Regions from separate parts of the Homo sapiens genome. Here regions 1 and 2 are each linked to region 3. Evidence: fine-mapped expression QTL. A gene starts in region 3. Each other region holds a variant in brackets. All regions are shown on one strand. Distances are from middle to middle. Region 1 holds the start of EIF1AX-AS1 (EIF1AX antisense RNA 1). Region 2 overlaps SH3KBP1 (SH3 domain containing kinase binding protein 1). Region 3 holds the start of SH3KBP1 (SH3 domain containing kinase binding protein 1).

The links. PIP is the estimated chance that this variant, and not a neighbour inherited with it, causes the effect.
Region 1: its variant is fine-mapped to the expression of SH3KBP1 in sun-exposed skin (GTEx, PIP above 0.99).
Region 2: its variant is fine-mapped to the expression of SH3KBP1 in sun-exposed skin (GTEx, PIP above 0.99).

Annotation. Positions count from the first base shown.
Region 1 is chrX:20,133,230-20,141,452 of GRCh38, reverse strand. EIF1AX (eukaryotic translation initiation factor 1A X-linked) reads left to right here. Exons shown (of 7, transcript NM_001412.4): 2 at 2,831-2,914; 3 at 5,612-5,715; 4 at 7,446-7,496. It overlaps EIF1AX-AS1 (EIF1AX antisense RNA 1), which reads right to left and starts at 1,485. Exons shown (of 2, transcript NR_046592.2): 1 at 1,218-1,485; 2 at 1,009-1,118. It also overlaps SCARNA9L. RefSeq lists an enhancer at 214-373. The variant G/A (reference allele first, on the strand shown) is at 4,029.
Region 2 is chrX:19,588,231-19,596,230 of GRCh38, reverse strand. SH3KBP1 (SH3 domain containing kinase binding protein 1) reads left to right here. Exons shown (of 18, transcript NM_031892.3): 10 at 1,231-1,282; 11 at 4,084-4,164; 12 at 7,429-7,588. Among named protein-coding and RNA genes, the nearest start is that of MAP3K15, 77 kb to the right of the region's middle. The variant G/A (reference allele first, on the strand shown) is at 3,249.
Region 3 is chrX:19,883,356-19,891,585 of GRCh38, reverse strand. It overlaps SH3KBP1 (SH3 domain containing kinase binding protein 1), which reads left to right and starts at 3,986. Exons shown (of 18, transcript NM_031892.3): 1 at 3,986-4,279. The coding sequence starts at 4,276. RefSeq lists an enhancer at 1,320-1,369 and silencers at 3,535-3,834, 3,895-3,964, 4,445-4,584.

The DNA of each region.
Region 1 (8,223 bases), 250 kb before region 3:
AACTCCTGTTGCCCAGTTTGGTCACATTGGGGTGGAGCCGGCGCCATTTTTGTAGGGCCTCCTGCGGGAGAATGTGGGCTTTTGCTCCTGATTCGCGCCAGACTGACCGCTGCTCGGTGGGGACGGTGGCGGGAACCTTCCCCGGGGCGGCCTAGGTTTAGTAGATAGGCCCCTTTGGCCTTCCCGGGCATGAGGGGTTATAATCCCTGGAAGCCGTTCTGAACTTTCAGAGTGCTGTCTGCATTCGTGAGCACCAGGTACTCCTGCATGGGTTTCTTTATGGACAGTTCAGTATTGTTGAGGCTACTCGCTGTCCCTTGTGAACAGTGGGTGAAACCTTGATACATTTCTAAGGCTCACCTCTAGAGATTTACTCTCTCCATCCCTTTACAGGATATAGCTTATGTTTGTTTGCTGAAGACTTATTCCATATTGAGCCAAGTTTTCTACTTTTGCTTCAGATGATGCATATGTTGTGAGAATAAAGACCTAATTTAAGTGTCCTCCATTCTGAGGCTAAGCGTTCACAAATGATCAGACTTGAGGATAACTTTATTTGGGATTTCCAAAACGGAAGGCCTAATCTTAAAAAAAAAAAAACAAAAACAAAAAACAGAACACTCCTAAAGAAATTACTTTTATAGATTTACAGTGTTCCTGTCATTTTTAATAGCCGTATAACTTGAAGAAAATTGTGCAAGTAAATATAGGGAAAATACTGTATTTTCCTACAGGAGAGGAGCATACTTCATAGTCCGTAAGTAGTCTCCTTTGATTATTCATTCTAGAGGAAACCCTCCCCTGACACAGGCCTACTTCTGCTCTCTTTTCTACTTGACAGCTGGCTCCAGGGATTCTACCACATTTCCTCTTTGTAGCTGTCACTTATTACTTTATCCCTTAGGGTACTTGGTCGAGGTGTTCTGTGCACAAGTTGGTGCAGTCACTGCTCATTATTTTGGAAAAGATGGAGTTATAAACAAAAAATTTTAAAGTCTTACAGTTTTCTTCTGTATAATCCTTTATTCTCTCTGAGGTGGTAAGGGGATCACTTCCATCTTATTCTCACCTTTATTTCTAGTAATAAGATTTCCAATTCTTCCACCAGGCTGTAAGCTCTACAAGGCAGGAATAGTATCTGTCTTAATCTCATTGGATTGCCAGCACTTGACAATTAGTAGATGCTTAATAAATATTTGTTGGTTTAAGTCACCTACCTCCTGTCGACTCCACCCTTAGTGAATAATAGGTTCTGCTTTGGTTCCAAGGGGATAGGACTTCTACACTAAATCACATCTAGTTCCCTAGCCTCATGTCTTAAGAAAGAGCCTCTCTGGGAATTTCTCCAAAACAACTCTGGTTTAAAGAATGTTGATGTCACTTTAATTGTTGTACACTCAGACCTAGTCTCATTCATTCAACAGAGAATTTAAAGAACATCCCATTACATGGCAATAAAATACAAAGGGGAGTGATCCGGGTATGGTTAATTCTGGTAAATTGACAAGTAATTAGTCTTTTCTTAAATAACATTTGAGGCATACAAAAAATACAGCTAACATGATATACCTGGGAACCCATTACTCTGAATTTAAGAATTACAGCGCAGATTGAGGTAAAGCCCTAATCACCTTTTACTCTCTTTTTGGAGGTAATCACCAGGCTGAGTTTGGTGTTTATCATTCCTGTACTGTCTGAAACCAATCAGTTCTTAGTTATCTTACTTAGAGGAATGGTACTTTTCATGACCTAATTTAAGTGTCCTCCATTTTTTTTTGCTGCTTCCAAGCTCTTCCCATGAGTCTCTTAGGGTCATTACCACTTACAGCCTTTTTCCTGCCTTTTGGAAATGGCTGCCAATGTGGTTTCCTTTCTGGAATGGGAGCAAAATGCTGTGGAGAGGTAAGCTTATGTGGGGGCTAGGGGCAAAAAAAACATTGTGACTTTGGTCACCCCAGCTTACTGACTGTAATCAGTGAACTGATTTACTCACTGAAGCTAAGCGACTTACTTAACTTCTCTGAGCTTCAGGGAACTCATGGGTAAACTGGGAATAAATGAATGTTATGACCTCATGGGGTGATTGTGACAAGTAAATGGGCAGAATTATTGCATAGTGGTTAAGAGCATGGTCACTGGGGTCATATAATAGAAACAGGGATGTTGAGTAGGGACCAGCATTATAAAAGAAAGTAAATTGGGTACCGAACAGATCTTCTTTATTTTTTAAGAGACAGTGTCTCGCTATGTTGCCCAGGCTAGCCTGGAACCTCCTGGGCTTGCTCAAGTGATCCTCCCACCTGAGCCTCCTGAGTAGCTGAGACCCTAGGCGCACACCACTGCACCCAGTGAGATTTCAATATTTATGGTACTCTGCTACCAAAAGTTTGAAAACCACAGTTCTCTGTCCAGACACTGTCTTCACTTAATTTTGAAAGTATCGGGTTCCTTGCATAGGGCCTGGCTTTAGAAGACACCCAAGATTTCCGCTTAGAAGAATATGTATAGAATTGCATTTTTATTTCAAAAGGATGGGTGCTAAAGTGAAATGTTTTTCTATATTTTTTAACATAATATCTGCTATTTATGTGTATTTTATGTCAGAAAAATCCCCAAAGGAAATTCCAAGAAGGGTAGGGAGGTGATAATGTGTTAATGTTGGGATTGGAGATTGTAAATTTAATATGATTGTGTAGCTAAAATAGATGAATTTTTTAATTTAAGTGATCTTTTAAAAAATGGTTTTATAAGCCTTAATTTCATTTTATTTCATACTGTTTTACAGATAATTAATGTCATTTACCTCCTTTTCTTTTTTTTAAACCATCAGGTAAAGGAGGTAAAAACAGACGCAGGGGTAAGAATGAGAATGAATCTGAAAAAAGAGAACTGGTATTCAAAGAGGATGGTCAGGGTAAGTGTTTTCATAAATTACGCTTTTTAAAATAACATCCTTTCTTTTTTAGCTGGGGACTTTATTTTTTTGAGACAGCGTCTTGCCCATCGCCCAGGGTGAAGTGTGGTGGCACGATTACAGCCCACTGCAGCCATGACCTCCTGGGCTGAAGCAGTCCTTCCACTTCAGCCTCCCGAGTATTTGGGACTACAGGCACACACCACCACGTCTGGCTAATTTTAAAAATTTTTTTAGGCTGGGCGCAGTGGCTCACGTCTGTAATCCCAGCACTTTGGGAGGCCAAGGCGGGCGGATCACGAGGTCAGGAGTTCGAGACCAGCCTGACCAACATGATGAAACCCCGTCTCTACTAAAATTACAAAAATTAGCTGGGTGTGGTGGCACGTGCCTGTAATCCCAGCTACTCAGGAGGCTGAGGCAGGAGAATTGTTTGAACCTGGGAGGCGGAGGTTGCAGTGAGCCGAGATCACACCACTGCACTCCAGCCTGGGTGACAGAGGGAGACTCTGTCTCAAAAAAAAAAAAAAAAAAAAAAAAAAAACTGTATAGAGATGAGGTCTTCATATGTTGCCCTGGCTATTCTCGAACTCCTGGGCTCAAGTGATTCTCCCACCATGACCTCCCAAAGTACTGGGAACTAAGAATGTGTCGTATAGTTCAGAGGGAATTGAGCTATGGTTGACAGTTCTGTGATTTAGTTGGCAGTTCTATGATTAGCATTTCTGGTAGTGAATGGTACATATAATATGTTGAGTAGACCATGGACATTTGAAGGATGAGCCTGAGGCCCTTATAGACCTCTCCATTCTCCAGTGCCATTAGCATATAACTTCGTAAACTACAATAAAATGAAACTGAACAGTTAACTGATTTTATTAGACTGAAGAATATTGTAAGTGCCAGACCAAGATACATAGCACTAGTCAAATAAATCCTAACTGGATCGTTTGCCCTTTCCTGTTACTTTTATTTCGAGTCATTTCAAACCTACAGAAAGTTGCAGTATTAGTGCAACAAACTCCCTTAAATCCTTCATCTGTACACACACATATAAAGAAATATATATGTGGGATTTTTTAATTTTTTTTTTGAGATGGAGTCTCGCTCTGTC[G/A]CCCAGGCTGGAGTGCAGTGGCGCGATCTCGGCTCACTACAAGCTCCACCTCCCGGGTTCACGCCATTCTCCTGCCTCAGCCTCCCAAGTAGCTGGGACTACAGGCACCCGCCACCATGCCTGGGTATTTTTTTTGTATTTTTAGTAGAGACGGGGTTTCACTGTGTTAGCCAGGATGGGTCTCGATCTCCTAACCTCGTGATCCACCCGTCTCGGCCTCCGAAAGTGCTGGGATTACAGGCGTGAGCCACCGCACCTAGCCCCATATGTAGGATTTCTTCAGGACCATTTGAAATTTAGAGACATCATGTTACTTTTCCCTTACTTGATCATGTATCTTCTAAGTGCAAGTATATTTTCTTATATAACTAGAAGAGAATTATCACACTCAGGTAATTTGACATTGATATAATATCTAGTATATACTCCATATTTCCTCAGGTATTCCAATTATTTCCAGTACTTTAGCTTTTAATAGAACTTTGGGTGGATTTATTACGCCATACATATAAACCAGTAAACATGAGATACGTTTTCTGGCTAAAAGTCCTTTGGTTTCTTAGCCTTGGTCATCCTTGCCTCTAAAATAGCAGCTGACTTGACTTGGGCATACACTGTTTTATTATTACTTTTTCCCTCACTTCAGAAGAAAGGCTGCCTTTGAGTTGACCAACCATGTTGAGGTGGTAGATGGGTGCTAAACTCACTGTAGTCTGAGTAATTGACTTCCACAAGTCATCCCCACTGTTGAGCCTTTCAAAATGAAGTCTCAGTATATTTACAAATTAATGGACATCCTCTCTGGGGATTAGTCATATTCTAATTCAACAAAGACATTGTTTGAAGTTTGTTTTTGTTTGCTAAATGAACTAAAAATTATGAGATTTGCACCTAAAGGTACTGAGGTAAAGGAGAGCCAAAAGTGGGGTAGTCAATCTACTTATTCAGAATGAGTCGATAATTTAAACATGTCTAATAGCAGAGACAGTATATTATAGAAATGGCATTACATTCTCTGAGATCTGCTTTTACTGAAGTGGATCAATGATGAAACTAGCCAAATCTGAGCATCAGAAGGCTTTCCGGTCTACCTGATGCATGATCTCTACAGTTCTGAGAAGCAGAACTATAAAACAATGTAAAACAATAAGGGCATATGTCTGGTGTGTGTGTGGGGGGTGTGTGTGTGTGTGCACGCACACGTGTTTATAAAGGTAGCAGTTGTAGGAATGAATGAGATTGGGGGTGAGGGGGTGCATATGTATGTCTATGAAAGCCTAATCATTTCTGGGCAATGATGTAAAGGTTTTACGACTGACCTTTGTAACTATGAAGTTTTCTACACTTGACCTGAGCTCAGAAAAAAGAAAGAAAGAAAGAAATGTCATCATAGAGTCTTAGTTCTAGCTCTGCCGTTAACTAACTTGATGTTTATCACTCCCTTATGTTTGTTTATAGTTTTACTATATGTATTTATTCCCAACTGGTGCAACTTTATTCTCTTGACAGTTTTATGTGGACTTTAAGTTGCTGTTATCAAAAGTTGAACAATATTCCATACCCTTTTCCTTTCTCCCCGCTAGAGTATGCTCAGGTAATCAAAATGTTGGGAAATGGACGGCTAGAAGCAATGTGTTTCGATGGTGTAAAGAGGTTATGTCACATCAGAGGAAAATTGAGAAAAAAGGTAGGTGTGATTTGTTTTACTTTAATATAAAATTGGTTAAGGGGGAAAATCCCTCTACAGTTTTTAACTGTCCATGGACTTCATTTTTGGAAATTCCCAAAAGACTTACCTTGGTAAACAGTGATTTACCTATAAGTAAAATAGCAAGGTCTGTAATGGTAATTTTATACAGGTTCTAATGTTAAAGAAGCATTTGTATCACTTGTATTGTATTCCTGCCCAAAAAGTCCAAATTGAGAGACATTCTGCAAAAACAAACGGCCCAGTTTTTTTTTTCCTTGTCTTTTTTTTGATACAGGGTCTCACTCTTATCACCCAGCCTGTAGAGTAGTGGCATGATCTGGGCTCACTGTAACCTCACCCTCATTGGTTCAAGTGATCCTCCCACTTCAGCCTCCCGTGTAGCAGGGGCTACAGGCCTGTGCCACCATGCCTGGCTAATTTCTGTATTTTTTGTAGAGATGGGGTTTCTTCATGTTGCTTAGGCTGGTTTCGAATCCTCAGCTCAAGCAATCAGCCCACCTTGGCCTCCCAAAATGCTGGGATTATAGGCATGAGCCACTGTACCCAGCCAGATGGCCCAGCTCTTAATGCAATGTTACTGTCATGAAAGTTTCAAAAAAAAAAAAAAAAAAAAGCTGGGGTACTATTCTAGTTGCAAGGAGACTTAAAGAGACCTGACAGTTAAATGGAGTAGGTTGCCCTTGTTTGGATTCTGATTTAGGAATTGGACATATAGCTGTAAAGTGTACATTCAGAAAATTTGAATATGAGTTATATAAGCATTGTATTAATGTTGCATCTCTTGAATGTCATCGTGAATGGACTGCCTTGGAAAGTAATGATTAATTCACCATCACAGTAGTTATTCAGGCAGATTTATTAATCAGGTTGACTAAAAGTCCCAACTCTGATTTTGTATTTATTTTTTTTAATTTGGTATGTTAATCCTTCTATTCCCAAACTAAAATCTTTTTTTCTTTTTCTTTCTTTTTTTTTTGAGACAGAGTCTCACTCTGTCATCCAGGCTGGAGTGCAGTGGCACAATCTTGGCTCAGTGCAATCTCCGCCTCCCAGATTCAAGTGTTTCTCCAGCCTCAGCCTCCTGAGTAGCTGGGATTATAGGCATGCGCCACCACGCCTCGCTAATTTTTGTATTTTTAGTAAAGACAAGGTTTTACCATTTTGGCCAGGCTGGTCTTGAACTCCTGACCTCAAGTGACCCGCCGGCCTCGGCCTCCCAAAGTGCTGGGATTATAGGCGTGAGCCACAATGCCAGCCCAAACTAAAATCTCTTAATTTCTTTTCTTTTTTTTTTTCTTTTAAAGAAGTTTATTTATTTGTTTTTTTGAGACGGAGTCTCACTCTGTTGCCCAGGCTGGAGTGCAGTAGCGCAGTCTTGGCTCACTGCAACCTCCGTCTCCCAGGTTCAAGTGATTCTCCAGCCTCAGCCTCCCGAGTAGCTGGGACTACAAGGGCATGCCACCACGCCCAGCTAATTTTTGTATTTTTTAGTAGAGACGGGTTTTTGCCATGTTGGCCAGGATGGTCTCGAACTCCTGACCTCAGGTGATCCGCCCACCTTGGCCTCCCAGAGTGCTGGGATTACAGGCATGAGCCACCGCTCCTGGCCTAAAATCTCTTAATTTCTAAACTAATTGATTGTTACTCTGGAATTTCTTGATTCTTCGTTATTTTAAATGTGACGGGCAGTGACTTTTCTTTTGTAGGTTTGGATAAATACCTCGGACATTATTTTGGTTGGTCTCCGAGACTACCAGGTAAAATTTACATGTAAATTTTTCCTATTTTACTGGCTTGAATTTGATGAGCCATTTCTTAAGAGCCAGTTTTGTTTCAGGCATTGTGCTAGGTATCCCAGGGATTTATGTTTAAATCAAAATCTGGGAGCCATTATTCTAGGGGATACAGCTGAATGAGTTAAGTGCCCATCCCACAAAAGGCTCATAGCCTGGTAGTGGAGAGAGTTAAGCACACAAGTAATTACAATACACATCACAACATAGGTATGTGCTATAAATCTAAAGGAGCACTTGGGAAAGAAAGAAAGTGGTGGTTGCCTTTCGTGATGGTAACCCTTGACTCTGTAGACTCATTGTGGGTCTGTGAGATCCATTTGACATCCACCTATTGGAAATCATCCCTGTATGATACTATCTCTATTTGTATAGCCTCGATCATACTTTGATTTAAAAAAAAAAAAAACCCAGAATAAATAATTTAAATCTTCACTTTAAGCCATTGTTTCTCAACTGTGGGCAGTTTTGCCCTCCGAGGGACATTGGCAGTGTCTGGAGACTTTTCTGGTTGTCACAACTGGGGGATGGGTGCAGTGCTGCTAGCATGTAGTAGATAGAGGCTGGGGTGGGCACAGGACAGCATCCCATAATAGAGAATGGTCCGCCTCACAATAATCCATAGCGCTGAGGTGAGAAAGCTTGCTTTAAATTCATACCATTTTAATGTCCATTTTTTTCTTATGATCTA
Region 2 (8,000 bases), 300 kb after region 3:
GGTCTAAAACCGAGTTTGCGTTATCTCTGAGGTATGCCTGTACTCTGATTCCGAGGTAAAGGAAGGTTAACTGGCAGAACTTCACTGATACTTTTGTTAGGTAAACACACATCTGTCCCCAGGATAATTAACACAACGACAGAGAAGGGAGGAAGAAAAAGAGTTAGTAGAGAGCTAGAAGGGGCTGGCAAAAGGGGAAAGAATAATGTGAGATCATGAGGCAGAAACACATCCATCCCATGGAGGACCTGTGTGTAAGGGCAGGTGGCCCTTAGAGCAGCTTTCTTTATTTTAATAAAGTATATTTCTCTGCACTCATAGAGACAATACAGAAAAACATTAAGAATGACACACACACGTGTGCGCACACATATGCACCCAGAATCAGAGATCACTGCTTCCCCCTAACACAGCTGTCTGAGAACAGTGCCCTGGCTGGATTTTTTGGCCATGGAATAATTTTCCAAGTCCAGCCTGATCATCTCTCTCCCACAGTCAATCCTAGGTGGCAAGAAAATGCTGGCTACTCTGGAACCAGTTCAGGGATGAATGCCATTGATTGCACTGCTACCTCCATCACCTACAGAGTGACAGCATGTGAGAAAAACAAATCACGGCTGATATGCAAAAAAAAAAAAAACAAACCAAAAAACAACAACAAAAAAAATCCCTCTCTGTTCCAGTTTATCACATGTACAATGAGTCTGTGGGGTGTCTAACAAATGGCCTGCCAGCCTCGGTGTAGAAAGGGGCAGAAGGCTTGCAACCTGATGTGGCTGCAGTGGGCCCTCAGCCTGCATTTTGTTGAGAGTCCTACATCCAGAGCAGATTCAATTTTGAATCTTTACAGTGACTCTTTTCGAATGCATGGTTATTCAGCAGATTAAATCTTAATTGCAAATGCAGCTTCAGCGTAGGAGTACCATTGTGCTTGCTGGTTTCAGGCCATTTTTGCTGAGCCGTGCTTTTCCAGAAGGCTGTTACAAATTTAGAAAGGGGGAAATGGCGTTTCATTTGTCGATTGGAGTTTTGTTTTGCCGACTGGATTTATTTTAGTGTTTGTTTAGAGGTGCCAAAAACTGACGTCCCTGGAGAGAGAATTGCTCAATTTTTTTGGAGAGGTTCTCTAAATTGTCCAAACTGCACATAGAAAACAATGTCTGTGGTCCTTCTGTGAGAGGACAGGCTTGCCAACAATCTCATGTGGTATAATTTTTATTAATTTTTCAGAGACCCAAGAAGCCACCGCCTCCATCCGCTCCTGTCATCAAACAAGGGGCAGGTAATGTACCTTTCAGTTCCATCAAATAAAATATGCGTCTTTCTTTTTGCATATATTCAAATCATCCTCAGTGTAGAGTTCGGGATTCCTGGTTCAAGTGCCATAGATTGACTACTTGGGAAGTTACGATTTGGTCTCAGCAGGCAGGTTTTAAAGATACTTCTGTTTTTCCTAAAAGATAAACATACCATTAAAATGTGACCCTGATATAGTGTAAAAATCTAGGCTCCCAATGAGAATGATCAGAAAGAATTAAAACAAACAAACAAACAAACAAAAAAAACAAGTTTGGGTTTTTTTAAGTAAACAGCTTTTGAGGAGAAAAGAACTGAATTGCCCTGTTTCTCATGTGCCCAGTTGAAGGTCAGCTTAGGGAAGATTGTTTCCCACAGGTCATAGCATTGTTGTGCGTATATAGTGTTGCTGAATTTTCGATATCTGTCCCATGTGGTTAACCAAAATTTGTACTGACTTCACTTACCCCTCAACAAAAAGATGTTTTTCTAGCAATAAATACTTTTCCTTATGATTCTTGTTTAATTTTGAAGAGTCTAATTCACTTTTTTTCTGTGTAGTTCAGATATTCAGGTTGAATAATATAGGAAGAATTGATGTTGAACATTTGGTAGCTTGTTTCACACTGGATTCTCATATATAAAAAGATATTTCATATTTCCCGGTAGAACTCCTCTTTATAATAGTTAAAATTAATTATAGGGAAAAATTCCTCCATGAGTTATTAGTTAAGTAGCATTTTAAAAAATTAACAACTAAAATAGAAGAGAAAGGGTATTTTTAGTTCTACACATTCACAATTATATTTCTATAACAGTTAAATTATGAATAAATTTCAAGATTGGTTTATTTATAAACTTATTAAGAAGTGATTTTTAAGTTCTTTTGGCCCACCAAGTTAAGAGGAAAAACTTGACCCCAAATTCCTTTCCCATTCCCTTTGGCATAGTTGAGAATTATTAGAGATTAAGTCCTGAAATGGGATGTTAATTACATCTTTTGCTCCGCCCCCATCCTTGTTTGCATTGAGCAGTTTCATTTTGCCACCTAGTGGTTCTGCCCATATATTTTATTGTGCTGAAATTGAAGCAAGCTATTTATTTACTTTTCTCTGAAGACCCCTTTCCCTGTAGGCCTTGGTAATTGATCAGAGACCGTGGAGATTAGTTGAGGAGTCCAAGGCTCAGGCAGTCTAGAATGTAGCTAAGATTGGATTCTTCAGTATAATAGGATTGTCAGTTCTTTCTGTGTCTCTAGGAATGATACCGACTTCATTATTGTTAGGTGAGTAGATTGTAGCATGGTAGGCAAATTCTTACCCTTTTAAAACAATTTTACCAAAGTTTATGATGGGTCTCTGTGGGGCAAAGCAGGATGGCATTTAATGTTTATAGATTACTGCTCATTTATCCTGCCTGAATGATCGTGGGAACTGCTTTGTAATGGGGAGATAGATATTCATATTTTCTCCCTCGTCAACTTTCCTTGCGTTTGATTATTTTACCAAAAAAAAATCAGATATGAAATTGACAGAAATGAGATGTGGTGATTAATTTGTAGTGAGTCATTAAGAGGAATTAAGTAAAGGATGTGTTTGGTGGATATTTTTTTTAACTTCTTTTGTTCTCTGAGGTTGTGTAATTGAGATTTCTAGTACCAAGCACCCATCTTTGGAACTGGTCATGTAAAGAGTTTGTTAAGAACTCAGCCCAGTCCATACATAAGAGGAGTACTTTTGACTGGTTTGTGCTTTAGCTATTTCTCAAGTGCTCTTACATGCCTGAGGCCACTGGCACCAATGAGGAAACCCCAGGTAAGGGAGCAGCTGCAGTCCATGTGGGTAAAGGCTAAGTGCTAAGTGGTACATTTGAAAAAATGTAATACTTGAAGGACCCCAAATTTGGTGGCATAAAACAACAGCCTTCTTATGTTCATGGATTCTGTGGGTCAA[G/A]AACAGACCATGGCTGGGCTGGCTTGTCTCTGCTCCGTCATATCTGGGACCTCAGCTGGGAATACTGAACTAGCTGAAGCTGGAGGATCCACTTTGAAGATGAATGTTTCCCTCACGTGTCTGGCTCCCCTTGGCAAGGGTGCCTGGAAGGCTGGGCTCAGCTGGGGCTATAGGCTGGAGCATCTGTATGTGGCCTCTCCAGGGTAGTTGACTTCTTACATGGAAGTTCAGTATTCCAGCAAATAAAGCATAAACTACAGGGACTTTTATGACTCAGCTTTGGAAGTTATGTGGTATCATTCCTGCCACTGATTGAAGCAGTCACAGGCCCACCCACATTCCTGGCAAGGGGATGTAGACCTCACCTCTTACTGGGAGGAGTATCAGGTAATTCCAGGCCCTGTTTTAAAATGGCTACAAAATGGGATCCAGATTCCTATGAAACCCCCTTTTTTTGGTAGAACACAACATTCAGTGGCCCCTTATTTGTAAAGTTTGATAATTGACATTTATTTATACACATTCTCCACCCCCACCCGGTGATTTCCTGTGACTATATTGATGCCTAAGGAAATCAGGCTTAAATATCAGAAAATATTATTAGTGGTATTCTTGTAAATTAAGGATACATAGGCAGGTGAACTTAATGACATAGGCCAGAAATGTCTTCTGCTCTGTTTCTAAACAGCTCGTGCTTGCCAGATAATGCTAACGCCCAACTCAGGGGAAAAAATCTTACTGACTTTGCTCTACCTGATAAAGATTTAAATGCTGGTGGGTGTAATAATTGAGTACAGAAAACATTTTGTGATCACTATTACCCTTTCCCTCCTAGGCACCACTGAGAGAAAACATGAAATTAAAAAGATACCTCCTGAAAGACCAGAAATGCTTCCAAACAGAACAGAAGAAAAAGGTATGAAATCAATTCTTCATTGGCACTTCCAGAACAGCAGGAGCTGAAGCTGTCTGTTACACGGCTAGTCCAGAATACCCACAGAATTTGCTTTTCCTTTGGAATATGGTGATCATGGTTTTGTTTTGATTGCTTTTACAAATCCTATTGCTAAGGAAGTAGGAGAGGGTTATGTGGTACTTCGTGGGACCACAATTTCTCATCAGATGAAAAATAACCAGTCTAGTCAATTAACACATTGCTGCTGTTTCCTGATGTCTCTACCATGGCCACCCTCTCTGCACCCTGAAGTCGGATGTAAGTTCCTTTAGGGCCTGGTATATATCTGTCAGTTTCCACTTAGCCTGTCCTTCATGCCTAGTGTCCCAAGGTGCTCATTCACTGTTGATGGATGGATTTGGCATAGTGAAATTCACGTCCAGATAAATAAACAAATGAAAGCTCTTTTCTTTGGTCACTCATGGACCCTTGACTCTGGGTAACGTTATTACAGACAGAAGTCCTTGGTCAAGGATGTTGGAGGAGGGGAGGGTGGCATGGTAATACTGGGAAAGCAGCTTGGTCCCCAGCGTCTCCTGAAGGTGGTCAGGAGTGTCATTGGCAGGAAAGTAGGTTAATGTGTGTCCTGCAATCAGGTTTATGAACGCGTTTGACTCCTACCATTTTGAGAGTCTCTCCCAAAGAATTCTGCATACTGTAGAAGGACTCATTTTATTAGGTGTCTAGGATTTGATTGATCACACATTTTTATGGGAAAAGTGCTATGTTATTACGAACAGGAGGCTGAGCAAATCCCATTTTAAAAAGCAGTTATTTTTAAGTCACAAGAGAAATGCTGAATTAATGAATGTAATTATTTGGAGGTGCTCCTTGGTGGCCTCATGAAATTTTATTGTGAAATTTGATATTTGATATCAGCCTGCCAAAAATTTTACCAACATTGCCAGCTCTTAAGAAGCTATACCTCTTTCTTTCACAGTGAGCAGTTAGAACTTGACTTGTGGAACCTCATTGTGAAGGCCAGGTCTGTGTCACGGATTGAAGAAAAAAACCAGCCATTGAGTATATACTATATGAATAACTCTTTGTATAAAAGCATTGGTATGGCCAGGCACAGTGGCTCACACCTGTAATCCCAGTACTTTGGGAGGCTGAGGCGGGAGGATCACTTGAGCCCAGGAGTTCAAGACCAGCCTGGGCAACATAACAAGACCCTGTCTCTACCAAAAAAAAAAAAAAAAAAAAAAAAAAAAAAAATAGCCAGGCCTGGTGGCCTGTGTCCATAGTCCCAGCTACTTTGGGAGGCTGAGGTGGAAGGATCGCTTGAGTCTGGAAATCAAGACTGCTGTGAGCTGTGACCATGCCACTGTACTCCAGCCTGAGCAACAGAGTGAGACCCTGTCTAAAAAAAAAAAAAAAGTGTGTGATGTGAAATAACCAGACACCACCCTCTGTCCTCATGGAGGACACATGGCTAGTTTCTGGGTAATAGCCAGGCTCCGTGATGGGGACACTTCCTGCACTAGTCCATGCTGACATATGGACTAGGCTTACATGTGAACAACCACCCTAGTTGGCTGACCAAGTGGCCCCACATCTCTGGTTCCTTCCTCTCCCATGATCCCTTGTTATATGCCACAGCGGGTGAGGGACGTAGAATCCCTGGTCAGATGCAATAGGGAAGCCAGGGAATCAGCCCTACCCGGATACTTGGTTTCCCTGTTGGGTCAGCACAAACTCCCTTTTCCATTCATCCAGCAGGCTGCTGGAGTTCCTGTCCCTGTCCTGCTGCAATAGGAGAAATGTCCCCTGCTTTGCATTTCAACAGAGCCCTTCCTCCTCTGGCCCCTGTGTGCCATAAAATGAGTTGCCAGCATTCCTGATTGGAGCATATTTCCCCACATTGTGGGGATGAGCATAATAGTACCTGATGGGTTTATTTTTATTTTATTTTTTTAGAGACAGGGTCTTGCTCTGTCACCCAGCCTGGGGTGCAGTGGTGCGATTGTAGCTCACTGCAGACTCGAACTCCTGGGTTCAAGATCCTCCCGCCTCAGCCTCCCGAATAGCTGGGACTACAGGTGTATGCCACCATGCCCGGCTAGTTTTTGTAGAGACGGGGTTTTACTGTGTTGCCCAGGCTGGTCTTGAACTCCTGGCCTCAAGTGATCCTTCCGCCTTGCCCTCCCAAAGCTCTGAGATTACAGATGTGAGCCACCGCGCCCAGCCCTGATGGGTTTTTTTTTTTTTAACCTTTTGCCAACCATCTGGGCACCCAAACAACATGAGTCTGTGTTTGCAAGTAGAAGGTGTCCTGAGTACCATCTTACAAGTAAGCATAGGGAGCCTGCCTATAGTCCGTTGGGCAACTCTCTCAAGTTCCATCTTTATCAAGAAGAATGTGGATGTATGCTTTTTATGCCACACACGGAGCAAGGCTAGTTGGGAACAGAAAATATGAGGTTGTCACTGAACACTGCCCCCGTTCGGCCAACAGATCTGGCTTCAACTTCATTCTAATATCTGTGACTCCAAAAAGCCTTGGAAACCTTATACCTGTGAAGTCCTAGTTTGCCTTCCAAGTTCAAACTTCTTGTGCGCAAGAAGAATCCAGAACTCATTGTTCCCTGAAATGCTCTCCCTTTTATTTGCTCATGGCCCTTTTCAGAGGCCAGCCTGAGACGTGTCAGGCCTCTTTCCTTCCCATACCCAGCAGGTCCCGTGGGCCATTGACCAAACCCCTCAGCCCTCTGCTGAGCCCTGACTCCATGCCAGCACCACATACAGCTCTGAGGAGATGACCAGACTTGGGCCCTGCCCTCAGGGGCTGTCGGCCTACAGGCTGTGCCAAACATGCAAACACCCAGAAAGTGTCTGAGCGTGTTTGTAAAGCGCTGCCCTGTAATGCTCAGGTGAGGAAGGAAGGAAGTCTGCCTTTGAGCTGTTGGGAAGGGAACATGGCAGTGTCACGTTTCAGCCAGGCTTCGAAGGAAGAGCTGGAGTATGCTGAAGGTGGGCGGTGGCCAGAAGGGCGCTTCAGGCAGAAGGACCAGCATGAGTGAAGGTGTGCAAGGGAGGGAACAGTGAGCTCTGTGGGACTTCTTCTAACCTGACAAAGAATAAGTGGTGCTCTTGGCCTTCCATGATCACCTTCAGAAATAGCATCAGTAATTTTTTTTTTTTTTAGCAGGAAATGAGTGATCTGCATCTAAGTACTGTCACTTACACTCGATCTATCTGTTTTCTTTAAACAATGATTTAAAGAAAGACCAGAGAGAGAGCCAAAACTGGATTTACAGAAGCCCTCCGTTCCTGCCATACCGCCAAAAAAGCCTCGGCCACCTAAGACCAATTCTCTCAGCAGACCTGGCGCACTGCCCCCGAGAAGGCCGGAGAGACCGGTGGGTCCGCTGACACACACCAGGTACTGCTGTGCTCTCACCTCCGGGGCGGGTGTGGGGTGGCTATGGAAGGAACACAGGAGGGGAACTGACTGCCACAGACCTTGGGAGGAAGGGAGAGGAGAAGGGGGTGCTCAAGCTTCCCTCTTACATCCTCCAGCAAAATTATCTGAAGACACCGGCCACTTCTGTCCTTGCTCCTGCACTCAGGCAGGAGTGAGTGTGAGGTTGAGGGGTGCGGTGTGGGTTTCATGAGGACTGGGTACCCAGCATTTAGGCCCTGCTCACACACAGGGGTTTTTCCTGGGCCTTATTAGAAGCAAGGCCAACTGCCCTTCAGCCTGGAAATGCAGGTGGCGTGTCCCTCTTTGTCCCCCTGGATGTTGTGCCGGCCTCAAGTATGTATATCTCATGTGTGGCTACGACCCCTGACCC
Region 3 (8,230 bases):
TGAGATGAATTTACATCATTTGAAATATTGCAATAACCATTTTGTTAAAAGATACTCTTGTAAGAGGGAGGCAGGATGAGAAATTATGCATCTATTCATGTCAGCAGCTGGATCTGAATCTTGATATTAACTTCCCTTGTGCTGGTCAGCAAAAGTTTCTCCAAGGAAAAATGAAAGGACAATAGGAACAATTCAGAAGAACTAAACAATAAGTGAAAAAATGGAAGGTTCATTTTCATAAGTCAGAGAAACTTAAAATGAAAAATAAACTATAGTGTTTTGGATAGAATCACCACAACTTTGTTTAGTTAAGGCATTAAAATTAGGGCACATGTCCCGGTGCGATGGCTCACGTCTGTAATCCCAGCACTTTGGGAGGCCAAGGCGGGTGGATCACCTGAGGTCAGGAGTTCAAGACCAGCCTGGCCAACAAGGTGAAACCCCATCTCTACTAAAAATACAAAATTAGCTGGGCGTGGTAGCGCATGCCTGTAATCCCAGATACGCGGGAGTCTGAGGCAGGAGAATCGCTTAAACCCGGGAGGTGGAGGTTGCAGTGAGCCAAGATCCCACCATTGCACTCCAGCCTGGGCAACAAGAGTGAAAGTCCATCTCAAAAACAAAAAAATAAAAAATAAAATTAGGACATAGCTCAGGGATTTTCAAAAATATTGTCTTGCCATCAGTCTTTCTTTTGTGGTAACGCAAATTTGACCACGCAGGAAGCAGATCAAGGAGGAGCGACACCGCATTCCTGTCCAAGAAGGAAAAGATATGCCTTGAAATAGACCAGAGAATAAACAAGACTCAAAACTTCAAGCAAGTCGGGCGCAGTGGCTCAGCCTGTAATCCCAACACTTTGGGACACCGAGGCGGGGGAGGATCATTTGAGCCCAGGAGTTTAAGACCAGCGTGGGCAACATAGTGAGACCTCATCTCTACAAAAACTACAAAAATTAGCCGGGTGAGATGGCACGTGCCTGTAGTCCCAGCTATTTGGGAGGCTGAGGTGGGAGGATCACTTGAGCCCAGGAGGTTGAGGCTGCAGTGAGCCATGATCACGCCACTACCCTCCAGCCTGAGTGACCGTGAGACCCTGTCTCAGAAAAAAAAAAAAAAAAGACAACAAAACGAAACAAACCCCCCAAATTTCAAGTGATCTGTGTTCACCTGTGTGAAGTTGGAAATAAAATTCCATGAGAAGACTGTCTTCTCCACATAGGACAGAGAGACCAAGCAGGACATAAGACAAACTGCTGATTTTTTCTTTTTCTTTGAGCCGACAGGGTTCCCGCACCCCATCTGCTGGTTTAGGTGTAGTGGCCTCTGTGATGCCTGGGTAAGTTTAGCTATGGGAAGGTATCATCAACAATGTTCAAAGACTTTTGACTCATCATTGTGAGAATGCACTGGGCAACCAGCCAAGAATCTTCAGCACTCCAGATAACAGTCCACTGCAAGGCCAGCACAACTGTTGCCATGTTGAAATGTACCCCATCACTTTCAGGGGTCTGAGGCTCTTTGAGAGAGGGTTAGGATGACCCACTGATACGGCCTTACCAAAGAGAACCACCTCTGGAATTGAGCAGACCCCCATACCAGTTCTTCTGGGGTTGGGGGAAAAAAAATGTCCCAGTAGCAGAGGGTTTATCCAGGCTCTGTGAGTTTCAGTGTTTGTCAACTCTAAGATGGTATCAGAAGGCTTGATTGCCCTGATTAGAACATGATATAACAAGACATGTAATGAGTGAGGCACCAGGGTGCCTGGAGGAGGAATATTTGAGTATTCATCATCCCTGCCTTCAACATTTCACATTCTTTTTTTTTTTTTTTTTTTTTGAGACGGAGTTTTTCGCTCTGTCGTCCAGGCTGGAGTATAGTGGCGCCATCTAGGCTCACTGCAACCTCCACCTCCCAGGTTCAAACAATTCTTGTGCCTCAGCCTCCCACGGAGTTAGGACTAAGGCATGCACCACCACGCCTGGCTAATTTTTGTATTTTTAGTAGAGAGAGGGGCTCGCCATGTTGGTCAGCCTGGTCTTGAACTCCTGACCTCAGGTGATCCGCCCACCTCGGCCTCTCAAGGTGCTGGGTTTACAGGCGTGAGCCACCGTGCCTGGCCCACTTCACATTCTTTTCTTTTCTTTTTTTCTGAGACGGAGTCTCGCTCTGTCGCCCAGTCTGGAGTGCAGTGGCACGATCTTGGCTCACTGCAAGCTCCACCTCCCGGGTTCACACCATTCTCTTGCCTCAGCCTCCGGAGTAGCTGGGACTACAGGCGCCCGTCACAACACCCAGCTAATTTTTTGTATTTTTTAGTAGAGACCGGGTTTCACCATGTTAGCCAGGATGGTCTCGATCTCCTGACCTCGTGATCCGCCCGCCTCGGCCTCCCAAAGTGCTGGGATTACAGGCGTGAGCCACCGCGCCCGGCCTTCACATTCTTAATCTCCGTGTTCTCTGATCCCTTTTTTAGGAGTCTGATATTGATGACACTAGGACTTCAATTGCAGCCTCTGTGTGGATGGGCCTCTTGTCCCTTGATTAGTCTCCTATTTCGATCGGTTTGACACACATGAACGGTATTTAGAAAGATGATGCTACTGATCTCTTGTTTGTAAGACCCTGACTTTGAGGTTTTTTGAAAAACTCATGAAACAGTTATAAGAACAATTTTCTACAGAAATCCCAGGACGGTAACCAATTTACAAGAGTTGCCCCGCCAACACAGGTGAGGTATGGAGACAGCCCCTCTCTTGGGTAGGGGGTCGGCTTTCATTTGTCCCTTTTGAGTCCACTAGCCCTCAGCCTCCTCCATTTCCAGGGGCCACTGATGTAATTTCTCTATTGTCTTACGTGCTCTTTGCCTAAATGTCTCCCATGTAGTTCACTATCGCTTCCTACCACCAGATGGTGGAAAGGGAAAAGGAAATAACGGGCCGGTAGAGGAATGTGGTGGCAGGCAGAGTATCTATGGCGAAAGGTGTGGTGGTGAATGGACCCAAAACGGAGCTTCTGAATTGCCCACGAATGCCCACGGATTCCCTGTTAACATTTTAGCGCCCACTCAAGGGTCGGCCGTCCAGGTCTGGGAGTCAGTAAGGCACAATAATGCCTGCTAGGGAGGGAGCCAGCCCTCATCTCAGCGGATTCCTGGGAACGTCAGAGCTCGGGAACATTCCTGAACACCCGAACCGCACCTGGCCCAGGCACTGGGGCGGGGCTTAGGCGGGTCCCAGCGAGGCGATGCGTCCCCTCGGCCCCGCTGCGTCCTTCGCCCGTTTTTCCCCACGTCAGTGCCACCGCCTCCTCTGTGCGGAACTCGCACCTGGCCTGCCTGCGTTCCCACGCCCCACCGAAGGGACGCCGCGTTTCTCTCCCTTCCAAGGGACCCTTTTCCTTCCCCTCCAACAGCCCCCCGGGAAAACTCATTCCAGATTGCCTCGATGCCCCAGGGCCACCTGCCATCACCCTGGTCAGGCGTTTGGCCCCGGGCCTGCCCTGGTCTCCATCCCCAGCCCGTCCTCCACCTCTTGTCGCCCCCTCCCGCTCAGCCCCCTTCTCCTCCTTCTCCACGTGCCCCTGCACTCCCACGCCCCTCCCCCAAGAAGCCCCTCTCCTCCGGTCTCGAGGAGTCTCGCGGCACTTCCCGGGGCGTCAGCCCAGCCGCTGCGGGTGGGTGGCAGCCGCGCGGAGAGGGGTGCCTCTGGCGCGGGCGGTGAGGAGGGCGCCCAAGCCCCTCAGCCGCAGGGACGCCCCCGGCGCCTGCCCCGACGCGGCCCCGGCCCCGGCCCCGCCCCTCTCCGGCCCCGCCCCCGCCCGGCGGCCGCGCGTCCCCGGCAGGCGGAGCTGCAGGAGCCTCGCGGCAGCGCTGAGGAGGAGGGGAGAGCGGGCGGCGCGGCCGCGGCTGCCGGGCGCTGGGCTGGGCGGCGCTGTTTTTTTTTTTTTTTTTTTTTTTTTTTTTTTTTTTTTTTTTTTTTTTTTCGCAATTTCCACTCGCGGGGAGCAGGAAACCCGGCGCAGCCGGGCGCATTGGGCCGCGATGCAACAGCAGCAGCAGGAGTCGCCCCGGGGCAGCAGCGGCAGCAGCAGCAGAGGCAGCAGCGGGCGGCGCTGAGCCGCCGCCGCCGCCACTGAGGAAGAAGCCGGCCCAGCCGCCGCCGCGTCCGGACCCTCGCGCCTGGATCCCAGCGCCCCGATCCCGGCGCCCCAACCCCCACGCCCGCCTCCGCCAACTTTCACGCTGCCTCGGCGGCCCGGCCCGGCTCGACGCCAATGGGTGAGTGGGGGCCGCCCGCGTCCGGGCGTCCACTTCAGCCTTGAGGGCGGCGCGCCAGTCCCAGAACCGCGGAGCCCGGGAGGGCGCCCCGGGGGCAGGGTCCGGACGGGGGACACCGCGGTGGGCGCCCTCGCCTGCCTCGCGCACCCCCATTCACTCCCACTTGCGCCCGTGTGCCCGCCGAGCCCGCGCGCGGCGCCGACGGGAACCCGCGGGGGCCTGAGCAGACGATCACGGGGGCTGGCCCCGGGCGGCTCGGGCTGAGGGATGCAGGGGGTGTGGTTGGTTTTTCGGGTGGGCGGGGAGAGTTTTGTCTTGGCCATTTTTGCACCCGAGCGCGCCCTCCTCTGCGCTGCGGACACGGGCACCCGGACCTGGTGGGCTCCGGCCCTGCGCGGGGCTGCTGGTGTCTTCCTGGTCCTGTCTCGGGGGAAGCTGGAACCTCGGGGTCTTGGAGGGGGCTGGGTTGCCTTTGCTGGGGGTTGACAGGGGTTGGGGGGTGGGGCGGGAAACGCCCCAGTTCCTGGTCTGGCTCGCAGTCCCGGGGTCCAGAGCACCTGACGCTCCTCTCCTTGCGCCCCCCTTCCTCCCGGCCCCGACCCTTTCGCTGCTGCCTTCCTCCAGCCTGGCGAGCTCTCTGCTCCGTGATGCTAAAAGGCCACTTCCCATACTGTCCTTTAAGTCTTCAGGGTCTGGGACCTGGAAATGGTGATCCGGTCTTTGATTTACTGAGTAAACATCAGTTCGAAGTAGCCAACTAACCTTTGAACCCCCTGGGTCCCATTTGATTTAGACCCCGGAGCATTGGAACCACCTTGCTGCCCAGAGAAGCTGCCACTTTATTGGCAAGGCACTTATGATTACTTGGGCTATTAAATGTTTGGTCTACCCAGGTAATGTTCTTGCTGACAGCCAGCTTCTGTTTTTCAGCCTCTGGCAGATTATTTTTGGATGTTCCTAGGCCAGGCATAGGAAGGCTGCAGATAATAATAAATCATAATAAAGTGAGACCTTTCTGTGTTCAGGTAATAGGATTCCAGTACACTAGTCAGGATGTTCAGAAAGCCTGAAGGATTGGAAAAGAGGAGGTTTAACCCAGTCCGTTGTTGACAGGCAAAGTTAAAATCCCATTTGTGGTCATTTGCCAAAAAAGGTTTTCCTTTTCTAAGTAGTGGTGATCTGTTGTCCCCTTGGCTTAAATGTCACTTTTTTCACAGTGCCCTTCTCTCCCACCTGTAGTCTAAATTGGTTCCTGTTCCATTTTCTCATACAACACCTTTTTTTTTCGTAGCAGTATTACATATTTGTGCGTAACAGTTATCTCCTCTACTGTAAGCTCTGTGACCATAGGGACAGCACAGTGTTGCATAGTTTGCTCAGCACTTTTGGTGTGTGGCACAGAGCAGGACCTAAATATTTGTTGAATGAATGAATGAGGGGCATGAAATCCTCCTCCTCTGCTGGGGACAGAACACTTAGCTCACTCTTGTTTTGCTTTGGCCCATAAGATGATTTAGTTCATTGGCAGAAGTATATACTTTAAACCTTACAGGCCACTTTAGTAATGGGTTAATTTCTCCCGAGGTAACCAAAAATTCTGTTTTGATCACCTTTCATTTTGGGTGGGTCACCGAGAGGGTTATGCACAAAAAGAAGTTAATCCAAATGTCTTCTCCCATGGCCAGACTGTGCTTTCTGTATCTCAATGAGAAGGGGACTGAGTCTCATTTAAGAAGAATCAGACCTATTTTTCAGATTTGAACTGTTTTCATTCTTCAGAACTTCCTACGAAAAATAGAGTGCTCCTGTAGTTTTTAGTCCTTTTGTACTTAATCTTTACTGCAACCATTATTGCAGGGGGAGGGGGCATCGATTTTCATTTATTTCAGGAGTTAATACTTAGAGGTGATAATGTCAAAACGAATGTAATTTAATTCATGTTTATAGTGGGATTTAAGGTGCTTATAGTAGTTTGTGGCTAAAAATCACCTGCTCTTTTGAAAGCATCTCCAGCAGTATATTTGTAATGAAGTGCAGTTATTTAACGGTTCATTCTGTATGTCTTCCAATGGAGTGATCTAATGGGCTGAGGTTGTGTGTATGCAGACAGAGGCCCACCCTTTCCCCCAAGTCTCTGGTTTTCAGATTTATCCAGTTTATCAATTTGATGCAATTTTATTCTTTTTTAAGAGGGAGGGTCTCGCTGTGTTGCCCAGGATGGATTTGAACTCCTGGACTCCAGATCTTCCCAAGTAGCTGGGACTGCACGCTCACACCACTGTGCCTGATTCTGATACACTTATATTCTTACCTGGCCTGATAATGAGTTTTCTCTTGATGGATAACATAGTAAAACTGTATCTTATATTTCGTTTTCTGAAAAATAACAGAAAAGAACCAAATCCCTAACCCTGAAGTGAAGCTGGTTAGTTGCAACATGGCCTCTTATAAAAGCCCATCAGAATGTGCCCTCTGAACTTGCTAGGAGATGCATGCCTACAGTGCCAGACACAGAGAAAGCCTCTTATAATTACAATTAAACAGATATTATGGTGACCCAAATCTGTGAGTAGTGAAGGGTTTGCAAGCCCACAAATGATTTCTGTTTAATTCCAGAGTAACAACAAAGTTTGGATAGCCTTTGGCAATGTATTTATTGTATTGGCGGTAGACTGCTGTATGCTAAACTAAAGCTAAAATGAACATAATGTGTTGGTCTGTACAAATGTCTTGAGTTAGAAATGGAAGAAAAGGCTCCCACCTTAATTGTACATAAGCTTTACCCACTTCTATCCATCTTGGCACGAGCAAAAGCTTGCTGTGGCTCTGGTTACACAAACCTTGGTGGTTTCTTCTCTTACTACTTCAGTTCTTTTGGCGTTACTGACATTCTCTCATCAACTCTTGAGTTTGTAGTTGTTTTTAATGTATTTTGCATACAGCAGTATTTGTTCATCTATCCATCCATCCATCCATCCAATGTTTGTTGATCTTCTTTGCATAGGCACTGTGCTAAGAACAGGTGCAGAACAGAGACATGACACTTTGGGCTTCTCAGTCTAATGAAGGCTGACTTGAATGCAATTCTCATGGCAGTATGTAGCTGAAAGCCATAGTAGAGCGCATGAAAGATGAGTGGAGAAGGCCAATCTGACTTAGCCTGGAGAGTGCCCAGGACAGTGTCTTAGAGGAGATTGTGTTTGAGCAGAAATCTGGTTGAGTATGAGTCATCACTGCCCTCCAGCCACACCTGGTTCTTGTGGCAGAGACTGAAAACGAGCACCGTGGGAACCGCGGGGCATCTCAGTAAGATGGTACAAGGAAGGATGACTTAGAGGGCTTGCACCTGTGTCAGGTGGCTTGAGGGCGTGTTTAAGGAAGCTGGGCATTACTTTGGATTGGATGCTACCAGGGGGAATTTGTGATTGGGTATTTTAACAAATGTTCTCTAGGAGCAGGGAACATTGGAGGCAGGCCACAGCTATGGTTGGTAAAGCAGCAGCAGTCATTTGCATTATCCAGGATTGGGGGATATTTGGTCATGTGTGTGGTTTGGACAAGGTGCATGTTTTGTCCGTGTTCAGACATGATTAATGTGTGGTCTTGTTTTCATCTTATTCCATCCTGGTCGCAGAGTGGCCTTGTCTGATGTTGGTTTTCTAGGGAATTGTTTCTGTTCAACAGGACACCCTGGCCCAGCTGTGGGTGCCTGGCCAGCTCCCAGCCAGAAGAACTGCTCTTTCTCCGAGTTAACTATGTGACAGGCAGGGGCAGGGAATCGGAGGCAGTGGGGGAGGAAAATGGCTTTCTAGGTATATCTGTGGCTACTTCATATCAACCAGGTATAGCCTGGACTGTTGTTCAATGCTAAGCACGATGGACATCTGAAATGCTATACTAAGGGAAGAGAGAGTGACAGAGAAAGAGCAAGCTGCTGAGAACCATGAAGTC